Linked DNA regions of Homo sapiens. The protein of the gene in region 1 interacts with the protein of each later gene in a pairwise test. Each region holds a gene or a part of one and is shown on either strand. Other genes may lie near its edges.

Region 1 (3,649 bases):
GACAACTCTTCTGGTTTGTGGCCACACACAAATCTTGAGGTCCTTGGTTTGGGGTCCCTGTTACTGTCAGCCGTCAAATGTCACACACTAACTCAGTCGTTCTGCCGCTCAGATGTGACACACACATATGCACAGTTATTTGGCGGTCATGGCCACTTAGTTACTACAGTGGGAAAGGATCCAGGTCAGAAGAGAGGGCCACCGAGGGCGGGGGGTAGAGGGCGGGGCTGCGGCAGGGTCTGGGCCTGTTTGCTGACCTCTGTCCTGCCCTGCTTCCCAGTGCCTGAGATGGAGCCTCCTGGTGCCGGCGACAGTGACAGCATCAACGCTCTGTGCACACAGATCAGTTCATCTTTTGCCAGTGCTGGAGCGCCAGCACCAGGGCCACCACCTGCCACAACAGGTAAAGCCAGGCTTTCTGCTGGGCAGACACCCTGCATGTCCCTCCTGTATCCCCTCCTCTATCCAGGGCTACCCAGACACTCCAGGGGTCTTGGGATCCTACAGGCTTAGAACCATGGATCACCTCAGAGCCAGGGGATCATCCTACAACCATGGATCATCTTAGAGCCATGGGATTACCTGAGAATCATGCGATTACTTTAGAACCATGGATCATCTTAGAGCCAGGGGATCATCCTAGATCCATGGATCATCTTAGAGCCACGGGATTACCTGAGAATCATGCAATCACCTTAAAAGCAGGGATCATCTTAGAGCCAGGGGATCAGCCTAGAACCATGGGATTATCTGAGAATCGTGTGATCATCTTAGAGCCATGGATCATCTTAGAGCCAGGGGATCATCCTAGATCCGTGGTTCATCTTAGAGCCATGGGATTACCTAAGAATCATGTGATCACCTTAGACCCAGGGATCATCTTAGAGCCAGGGGATTATCCTAGAACCATGGATCATCTTAGAGCCATGGAATTATCTGAGAATCATGTGATCACCTTAGAGCCATGGATCATCTCAGAGCCCTTGATCATTTTAGAGCCACGGGATCCCCTTAGAACCATGGGATCATCCTAGAACTATGGATCATCTTAGAGCCATAGGATCACCTTAGAAACACAGATCATCTTAGAACCAGAGGATCATCCTAGAACCAAGGATCATCTTAGAGCCGTGGGATTACCTGAGAATCAAGTGATCACTTTAGAACCATGAATTATCTTAGAGATACGGGATCATTGTAGAGCCACGGGGTCACCTCAGAGGCATGTGCTCATGCTAGAATCTTGGGATCACCTTAGAGCCCAGAGATCGTTTCAGAACCATGGAATCCTTGAGAACCATGTATCATCTTAGAGCCATGGGCTTATCCTAGAACCACAGGTGCACCTTAGAATCTCAAACACTGTAAATGTAGAACTCGAGAATCTTAGAAAGCCCAACCCTAAACTGTCAAACCTTACTATGTTAGGATACTATTATACATGTGGAGAAAGATCCATGCAATCTTAGAATCTTAACTCCTAAAACAATACATTCTGAAGGTATTAGAAAATCAAGGGTGATATTCAAAATAGTGAATACCAGCTGGGTGTGGTGGCTCATGCCTGTAATCCTAGTACTTTGGGAAGCCGAGGCAGGGGGATTACTTGAGGTAGGAGTTCGAGTCCAGCCTGGGCAACATGTTGAAACCTCGCCTCTACTAAAAATACAAAAAATCAGCCGGGCGTAATGGTGCGCGCCTGTAATCCCAGCTACTCAGGAGACTGAGGCACGAGAATTGCTTGAACCTGGGAGGCAGAGGTTGCAGTGAGCCCAGATAGGGCATCCCTGGGCAACAGAGTGAGACTCTCAAAACGAACAGACAACAAACAAAACAAAATAGTGAATCCTAGGCTTGGCACTGACCAGTCAGAAGGGTAGTGGGGCTAGGAGGATGTCAGTCCTACTTAGACTTTCTCATCATAGGGCCTTAGAAGCTCAGAATTGTATGTTCTTAGCACTCCAGAACCATTACGTGGTCCAGAATGGTGAAGTCACTCGCCTGAAGTCAGCAAGCTCGGGAGGTGCAGAGCTGGGATTCAGAGGCAGGCGGTCTGGCTCCAGAGTCCGTGCTCTGATCCCCACACCATGCCAGTTCCCAGCCTGGGGTTCTTCTGCTGAAGCCGTTGCCCCCTCCCTCACCTGTCCCTCTCCTCTCTCCAGGGACTTCTGCCTGGGGTGAGCCCTCCGTGCCCCCTGCAGCTGCCTTCCAGCCTGGGCACAAGCGGACACCTTCAGAGGCTGAGCGATGGCTGGAGGAGGTGTCACAGGTGGCCAAGGCCCAGCAGCAGCAGCAGCAGCAACAGCAACAGCAGCAGCAGCAGCAGCAGCAACAGCAGCAAGCAGCCTCAGTGGCCCCAGTGCCCACCATGCCTCCTGCCCTGCAGCCTTTCCCCGCCCCCGTGGGGCCCTTTGACGCTGCACCTGCCCAAGTGGCCGTGTTCCTGCCACCCCCACACATGCAGCCCCCTTTTGTGCCCGCCTACCCGGGCTTGGGCTACCCACCGATGCCCCGGGTGCCCGTGGTGGGCATCACACCCTCACAGATGGTGGCAAACGCCTTCTGCTCAGCCGCCCAGCTCCAGCCTCAGCCTGCCACTCTGCTTGGGAAAGCTGGGGCCTTCCCGCCCCCTGCCATACCCAGTGCCCCTGGGAGCCAGGCCCGCCCTCGCCCCAATGGGGCCCCCTGGCCCCCTGAGCCAGCGCCTGCCCCAGCTCCAGAGTTGGACCCCTTTGAGGCCCAGTGGGCGGCATTAGAAGGCAAAGCCACTGTAGAGAAACCCTCCAACCCCTTTTCTGGCGACCTGCAAAAGACATTCGAGATTGAACTGTAGCCCGAGCCGCCCCACCCACTCCATCATCTCCAGGTGCCCCACGCCTGGGGGTGGAGGCACAACCTCTCCCCTAACCCTGCTCCCTGGGGCTGCGCCCCTCAACACCCTCTCAACACCCCCCTCCCTCAACCACCCCGACAACCACTACAGAACCAACATTGTGACGCCCAGGTTGCAACAGGATGGAATTCAGGGACGGACCCAGCCTGGCTAAGGGAACCATTTCACTGCCGGACTTAGGCTGGCAATGCCCCCTTCCCCAACCCCAGACACAGGGGTTGGCCACAATCCCACTGAATGCCCTTGGTTCACACTCCATTTCCCAGTTTCTGTTGACCCCCACCTTCCAGTGTTGGACAGGATGGAGGGGGGACACTTGCTTAGGGGCTCTCCTGGGCCCCACACCAGTGCCCACCCCAAATCTGGTCGTCTCCTCCCCCCATGCACAGCACAAGCTAAGGGCTGCCCTCTGCCCACACGCTGCGTTCACTGCCAATGCTGTACTCACCTCCATCACCCTCCAACTTTGGGGCCCATGTCTTCCTTGGGCCAAGGTCTCATGGGGGCTAGGGCCAAGTTGGGGGCCCAGGAGGCGGGGAGGGAGGAGGAGGAGAAGATGCGCAGTTACCTCATGTCGGTGCCCGCTGGGGAGGGGTCCGGGAAGAAGGGGAAGGGGTGCCTGGCGGGTACTTTTCTATCTTTTATTTCCAGATTTTTTTTGTATCTAAACTTGAAGATTTGTATTATACAAGGACAGCCAATAAAGGAAGAATATAATGGTGCCCCTCGGGAAACGAGGGTGTGTGTAGGGCGCTG
Region 2 (3,649 bases), on another chromosome or scaffold:
AGGCAGTGGGCCATAATTTGCAACACCTGATTCACAGCATAATTTTGTCACAAACTGAAAGTGTTCCTCAATTAAAGTGATTTTTTTTTCTTGATTTTTCTCTGGGATTTATTGTTTTTCCCATTCCTTGCTAGGATTTAACTACAGAAAGACAGATAGTAACTGCTCTAAATATTCTAATTTCCTTTATTTTTTTGAGATAAGGTGTCGCTCTGTTGCCCTGGCTGGAGTGCAGTGGCGTGATCATAGCTCACTGTAGCCCCCAACTCCTGGCTGGGGCTCAAACAGTCCTCCTGCCTCAGCCTCCCAAGTAGCTGGGACTACAGGCACGCACCACCTCACCTCGCTAACATTTTGTTTTGGGAGATAGGGTCTTACTCTTTTGCCCAGCCTGGTCTTGGAACTACTGGGCTCAAGCAGTCCTCCCAACTTGGCCTACCAAACTGGTAGGATTACAGGGGTAATCCCCCTCAACTGACATAAATATTCTAATTTTCAAATTTCCATATAATAGTATGGAGAGATGAAAACAAAAGGAAAAGAGTAGAAGATAGGAACCTAGCATCATACTAGTAAGTGTGCAATGGAAAAGAACATAGGTCTAAGACTCATAAGGTCTGGATACTGTTCAGAACCAGCTGATTCTGTGGTCCTATGCAGTGTGTTTAATCTGCAGTTGAGCTTGGGCTAAATGACCTCTAAGATCCTTTTGTCAGCTTTACTAAAATACGAAACAAATTAGGTTTTATAGGGGGTTCTAGAACTTAGCATTGTATAAATGCCAAGCACTAATAAGTATTTTCTAGAAGCTGGTCTTAAATAAGTTGAATGAGTAATTAGTTGAGCAGGGTTCTAGTACAGCATTAACATTAAATGTATGTGAAATTGTATCTCACTTCAGTTTACCAAAACACTGATAAATGGTATGCCTGCTTTTTAGGCAAGTTTCTGACAGGTAATCAATAATATTGAAACAGTATCCATGAAGTCTTTAAGTTGATCAACGCATGGCTAAAAGGAAAACCAAGTTTTTAAGAAAACTTTTTCACACTAATAGCTGAATTTTGTGAAAGAAAAAGTGGGTAGTCGTAAGAGTGTAGGCTTTATGCCTTACCTGGCTAGGAGCAAAGCTAAGAGAACCGGTGGAGCACAGCCAGACATAAAAGCTGTGTTCCAAAGAAAGAATATAGGAAAAATATAACTTTTTATTAACTCAAAATTTTAAACAAAATTTTCAAACTAGAGCTCACAGAGATTCATAAATAGGTTTCAAGGATTTTGTGAAATCATATCAAAAGTTGTGTTTTTCTAGATTGAGGCTTTATAGCAGTTATTCAGAATCTATAAAGGGATGTATAACACAACTCTACAGATAATATGTTACCAGCTTTCCCATTCAGTGACTTAGCAGCTTCATAAACTCTCAACATCAAACCACACTATATCCTTACACCGAGCTTCCCCAGCCACAGGCCACATGGGGCCAAACACAAATTCGTAAACTTTCTTAACACATGATGAGATTTTTTTTTAAGCTCATCAGCTATCATTAGTGTTGGTGTATTTTATGTGTGGCCCAGGGAAGCCAAATGATTGGACATCCCTGCCTTAGACTGAAATGTCTGTGGTGATAAAATTTCACTGCATTAGGATGACGACATAGTAAAAATTCAAGCATTAATTATTACCTGAAGCTTCTCTATTTCCGTCTTTGCAGCTTGCCTGGCTTTGCCGATGGCACAGCCCCAATAACCCTATTTAGAAAAAAATATATATAATCACTGAATTAGTACACTATCATATGTAATTAATGACTACTAATGTTTCTATAACCTAGTGAAAGGATGCTAAATGACTTTTAAAAGCAAGTATAGAAAAATATAGTCAAACACATTCTGATGAATGCCAAAGGGCTCAAAAATACTAAAATACCAAACAATTCCAAAACAACCTGTATTTTTAATAAAGGTATATCCAAAAATATGTAAATTATGTAATCATATACACTTTAAGACATTTTGGGGAACAGGAACGGAAAAGATTTTAGCACTATGACAATGAAAAATGAAATTATATATTCCTGAGAGACAGAAATAAAGTTAATTCCTATGAGTTCAGTACTCTAAACCCCCAATTTTATTATTTTGTAAATTTTTTTAAAGATAAGGATGCACAGCTGGGTGTGGTGGGTCATGCCTGTAATCCCAGCACTATGGAAGGCCAAGGTGGGCAGATCACCTCAGGTCAGGAGTTGGAGACCGGCCTGGCCAACATTGTAAAACCCTGTCTCTACTAAAAATACAAAAAAATTAGCTAGGTGTGGTGGCAGGTGCCTGTAATGCCAGCTACTCCAGAGGCTGAGGCAGGAGAATCGCTTGAATCTGGGAGGCAGAGGTTGCAGTGAGCTGAGACCGCGCCACTGCACTCCAGCCTGGGCAACAGAGTGAGACTCCATCAAAAAAAAAAAAAAAAAGGATGTACACATATATACTTCTGTTACAGCAAAATATATTTAAGAATCTTCATTTTCTTCAATTAGTAAAAACGACAAAAATGTAAGGATAAGAAAACAGTTAAGAAACGGTAACAGGCCGGGTGCAGTGGCTCACACAAAGTGCTTGTAATCCCAGCACTTTGGGAATCTGAGGCACGTGGATCACTTGAGGCCAGGAGTTCCAGACCAGCCTGGGCAACATGGTGAAAGTCTGTCTCTACTAAAAATACAAAAATTAGCCAGGTGTGATGGTACAGGCCTGTAATCCCAGCTACTTGAGAGGCTGAGGCACAAGAATCCCTTGAATCCGGGAGGCAGAGGTTACAGTGAGCCAAGATTGCACCACTGCAGTCCAGCCTGGGCAACTGAGCAAGACTCTGTCTCAAAAAAAAAAAAAAATGGTAATAATTTAGGGAAAGCTCTTAGAAATCACATTTAAACCTTCTCTTTAAAAGGGAAGGCAGGGCAAGGTGGCTCACACCTATAATCCCAGCATTTTGGGAGACCAAGGTGGGCGGATTACTTGAGATCAGGAGTTCGAGACCAGCCTGGCTAACATGGTGAAACCTCGTCTCTACTGAAAATACAAAAATTAGCCGGGTGTGGTGATGCATGCTTCTAATCCCAGCCTACTCGGGAGGCTGAGGCAGAATTGCTTGAACTGGGGAGGTGGAGGTTTGGCGCCACTGCACTCCAGTCTGGGTGACAGAGCGAGACGCTGTCTGAAACAAAATTAGGTCCGGCACTGTGGCTCACGCCTGTAATCCTTGCACTTTGGCAGGCCGGGGTGGGCAGACCACCTGAGGTCAGGAGTTGGAGACCAGCTGGCCAACATGGCAAAACCCCATCTGTACTAAAAATACAAAAATTAACCAGGCATGGTAGTACATGCCTGTAATCCCAGCTAATCAGGAGGCTGAGACAGGAGAATTGCTTGAACCTAGGAGGCGGAAGAGGTTGCAGTGAACCAAGATCGAGCCACTGCACTCCAGCCTGGGAGACAGAGTGACACTCCATCTTATAAATAAATAAAATAAAAGGGATGACATGGCTGGACATCGATGCTCACGCCTGTAGTCCCAGCATTTTGGGAGTCCAAGGCAGGAGGACTGCTTAAGGCCAGGAGTTTGAGACCAGCCCTGGGAACGTGGAAAG
Region 3 (3,509 bases), on another chromosome or scaffold:
TGGGGTAGAGTTGTCTGGGCCTGCCTTGTCTGTGGGGTGGGGCCATCCCCTCCAGAAAGGACAGTGTCCTGCCCTGAAGCTGGCTTTCGATAGGTCCACGTTCACCTGGAAGCTGGTGGCGCCCATGTCATGGTCCCCTGTGGCTTCTCCTGGGGATCACATCATCTCTCTGGACCAGCCCTCAACCCTCACTGTCACAAGGCCTCTGCCACAGGCCCCCCGCCACCACTTAGCACTCTCCCTGCTGACCCCCTGGTCCATTCAGCCCCTGGGTGGCCCCCACACAGTCTGTGACAGGGAGGAGGCTGGGAGGGGCACTGCCTCCCACAAGGAGCTCACGTTCTGGTGGGAGGAGGCCAAGAATCAGGACCAAGGAGAACTTCAGTGAAGCAAAAGAAGAAAAATGGAACAGGGGTGAAGGGGCTGGAGAAGCCTCAGGGAGGTGACAGCTGAAACCTGCACCAGGAGGGGCGGGGCCTGTAGTGGGCACTGGGCAGTAGGACCCTGTGGTGAGCCAGGTCTGCTCAGGTAACAGGAAGGTCGTTGGGCCACAGTGTGGTGGGGACTGCCCTGAGGCCGGGTGGCTGCAGCTGGGCCTGGTGTGGGGGTGGTGGCCTTGCCTGGGGGCCCCTGCAGGGCTGGCCTAGCAGGGAAGGTGTCCACACCATCTCAGCTCTGGGCAGGTGGGGTGGACCTGGGGCTTATCCACCGTCTAGAAACCACTTGGAGGCCAGGCAGCCTTGGCTACTGCTCTGTGGCTGGGCCTCCAGGGCCCTCCTGGTCATGCAGAATGGGGCAGAGCCGGAGCCCGTTGGGAGGGAGCCTGGGCTGTGCGCTCGGGGTACTGTGAAGTCCCTGGAGGCCTGGACCCCCATCCTTTCCTGGGTGGGTCAGGGACAGGGTGGGACAGGGACAGAGGGCAAGGGTGAGAGGGTAGAGAGCGGGCAACAGGTAGTAACAGCCGGCCCTTCTCTCCCAGCACAGCGACTCGGACTCCGACCCCGAGTACTCCACGCTGCCGCCATCCATCCCCAGTGCGGTGCCCGTGACCGGCGAGTCCTTCTGTGACTGTGCTGGGCAGAGCGAGGCCTCCTTCTGTAGCAGCCTGCACTCGGCCCACCGGGGCAGGGACTGCCGCTGCGGAGAGGAAGACGAGTGTGAGCGTGGGGCCCAGCCCCTGCTGGGACTGCACTGCGGGCGGGCCTGGGGGTGGGCAGGGCAGAGCCCCATGGAGCTCTCAGGGCTGCCCCAGCCTGGGCCTCTCTTGCAGATTTCGACTGGGTCTGGGATGACTTAAATAAGTCATCAGCCACCCTGCTGAGCTGTGACAACCGTAAGGTCAGCTTCCACATGGAGTACAGCTGCGGCACAGCGGCCATCCGGGGCACCAAGGAGCTGGGGGAGGGCCAGCACTTCTGGGAGATCAAGATGACCTCTCCCGTCTACGGCACCGACATGGTAAGTTGCTTCGGCCCAGGGTGCTTCTGGGGAACCTGGCTCCGGCAGCCCAGCCCCGCGCCCTCTGCCTGGCCCCTGTTCCTAGATGGTGGGCATCGGGACGTCGGATGTGGACCTGGACAAATACCGCCACACGTTCTGCAGCCTGCTGGGCAGGGATGAGGACAGCTGGGGCCTCTCCTACACGGGTGCGTGAGGCCCAGGGTGGGGCGGGGCCGAGCCTGGAGCTCCCGGGCTCACTGCGACCCTGGCTGCCCCCAGGCCTCCTCCACCACAAGGGCGACAAGACCAGCTTCTCATCGCGGTTCGGCCAGGGCTCCATCATTGGCGTGCACCTGGACACCTGGCACGGCACACTCACCTTTTTCAAGAACAGGAAGTGTATAGGTGAGGCCGTCACAGGACTTGAGCTCCTCTCAGCTGTCACCCCGAGGGAGGCAGCCACCCCGCCCCAGCCCAGGGGACACTGAGGTTTTCTGAAAGGGTTCCTCCCAGAAGCCTGAGGCCCCAGGGTCCCAGGGGGTGGGACAGTGAGGCCAGGCTGGAGTGGCAGGGCCAGCGCGTGCACCCTGCCTTGCCTCAGCTGTGCCAGCTGCCCACCCGGGTGACTGTAGCGTGAGGTCTGAGGGGCTGCGCCCAGTAGCTGGCCCCTTCCCTGCCTGGGGTTCAGGCTGGGCCCCTCCCTTCCAGGTGTGGCAGCCACCAAGCTGCAGAACAAGAGATTCTACCCGATGGTGTGCTCCACGGCGGCCCGGAGCAGCATGAAGGTCACCCGCTCCTGTGCCAGCGCCACTTCCCTCCAGTACCTGTGCTGCCACCGCCTGCGCCAGCTGCGGCCAGACTCGGGAGACACGCTGGAGGGTCTGCCGCTGCCGCCGGGCCTCAAGCAGGTGCTACACAACAAGCTGGGCTGGGTCCTGAGCATGAGTTGCAGCCGCCGCAAGGCTCCAGTGTCCGATCCCCAGGCAGCGACCTCCGCCCACCCCAGCAGTCGCGAGCCTCGGCCCTGCCAGAGGAAGCGCTGCCGCCGGACCTGACTGACTTCCCAGTGGAACTGCCTTCTTGGGCTGGGACAGCCCCTTTCCTCTGTCCCTTCTTTCTCTGTCCCTTCCTTCCAGCCACACTCCAGGGCGGAGTTGGATGAGGCCCGTCCGGAGGGAGCCATCTCTTGCTCCCGAGGCTGGGACAGTCCTTTCTGTGGGGGCTCTAGGGCCCCTCTGCTGCTGTGCTGGGTGGGGAAGCGGCTGCCCTGAGCCCCAGGTCTTGTGGGAGGCTGCGAGGACGAGAGCCTGGCTGGAGCCCGCGTTGCTGTTCCCACAGGGCCTCGGTTTTTCCTAACTTGCTCTGCATGCTGTCAGCGGCTGCCCCGCCGTCATAGACTTAAAGGACTGCAATAAATGTAGAGTTGATGTCTAACACCCACATGGCGTGAGCTGAAACGTATCCGTGCAGAGGCCGGGCTTGCGAGCAGCCTGGGCCTTCTCCCAGGCCTCACTGCCCCTCCACATCCTTGGGAGTCCCCTACTGCTTCTGGCTGAGGGTGCCACACCCCAAGCCTCCAGGTGGCAGTGGGGCCCTGGAGCTGCCTTCTGGTCCCTGCCGAGTGTGTGTGTGTGTTGGGGGGGCACAGCCCTGCTGCTGAGGCCTCCCCTGGGGCCTACGTGTTCAGGACTCAGCACAGGAACCGCCAGCCATCTGCCAGCCAGAAGCCCCTCTTCTCCCAGCTACCTAAAACTTCCCCTGCAACCACCCACCCTTCCCCTGAGGTCAGACCTGCTCAGCCAGAGAACCCACCCAGGCTGAGGGTCCACATGTGGCTGGGGGTCCTCCCCCACCGCCCAGGGTGTCTGGTCTGTCCCCAAGGCTGCATGCTGTCCTGGTGGTCCCACGTGTGGTCAGGAGCCCAGGTCCAGCAGGAGATCAGGGTTGGCTGTGGTCAGGAAGAGGCAGATGCGGCGGGAGAGGTCAGGCCCCACCCTGCGGGGACGCCCGCCTTCACTGGGCGGCACAGGAAGGTCGGCCAGGAGGCCCATGCGCTCCCGCTCCGTGCT

The links.
Region 2: the proteins of NUMBL (region 1) and PSMA3 interact in a two-hybrid assay, tested with the Homo sapiens proteins (one large-scale study listed by BioGRID and IntAct).
Region 3: the proteins of NUMBL (region 1) and SPSB3 interact in binary tests that used the Homo sapiens proteins (3 or more experiments, as listed by UniProt).

The regions. Positions count from the first base shown.
Region 1 is NC_000019.10:40,666,652-40,670,300, reverse strand, and holds part of NUMBL (numb-like protein), read left to right. Parts: intron 1-280; coding exon 281-403; intron 404-2,162; coding exon 2,163-2,833; 3' UTR 2,834-3,649. UniProt on the Homo sapiens protein: Plays a role in the process of neurogenesis. Required throughout embryonic neurogenesis to maintain neural progenitor cells, also called radial glial cells (RGCs), by allowing their daughter cells to choose progenitor over neuronal cell fate.
Region 2 is NC_000014.9:58,261,810-58,265,458, reverse strand, and holds part of PSMA3 (proteasome subunit alpha type-3), read right to left. Parts: intron 1,755-3,649; coding exon 1,689-1,754; intron 95-1,688; exon of another isoform or gene 1-94. UniProt on the Homo sapiens protein: Component of the 20S core proteasome complex involved in the proteolytic degradation of most intracellular proteins. This complex plays numerous essential roles within the cell by associating with different regulatory particles.
Region 3 is NC_000016.10:1,776,083-1,779,591, reverse strand, and holds the end of SPSB3 (SPRY domain-containing SOCS box protein 3), read left to right. Parts: exon of another isoform or gene 1-979; coding exon 980-1,157; coding exon of another isoform or gene 1,158-1,270; coding exon 1,271-1,458; exon of another isoform or gene 1,459-1,543; coding exon 1,544-1,646; exon of another isoform or gene 1,647-1,719; coding exon 1,720-1,845; exon of another isoform or gene 1,846-2,148; coding exon 2,149-2,495; 3' UTR 2,496-2,880; downstream 2,881-3,509. Other genes in the region: structure-specific endonuclease subunit EME2, read right to left, coding at 3,354-3,509.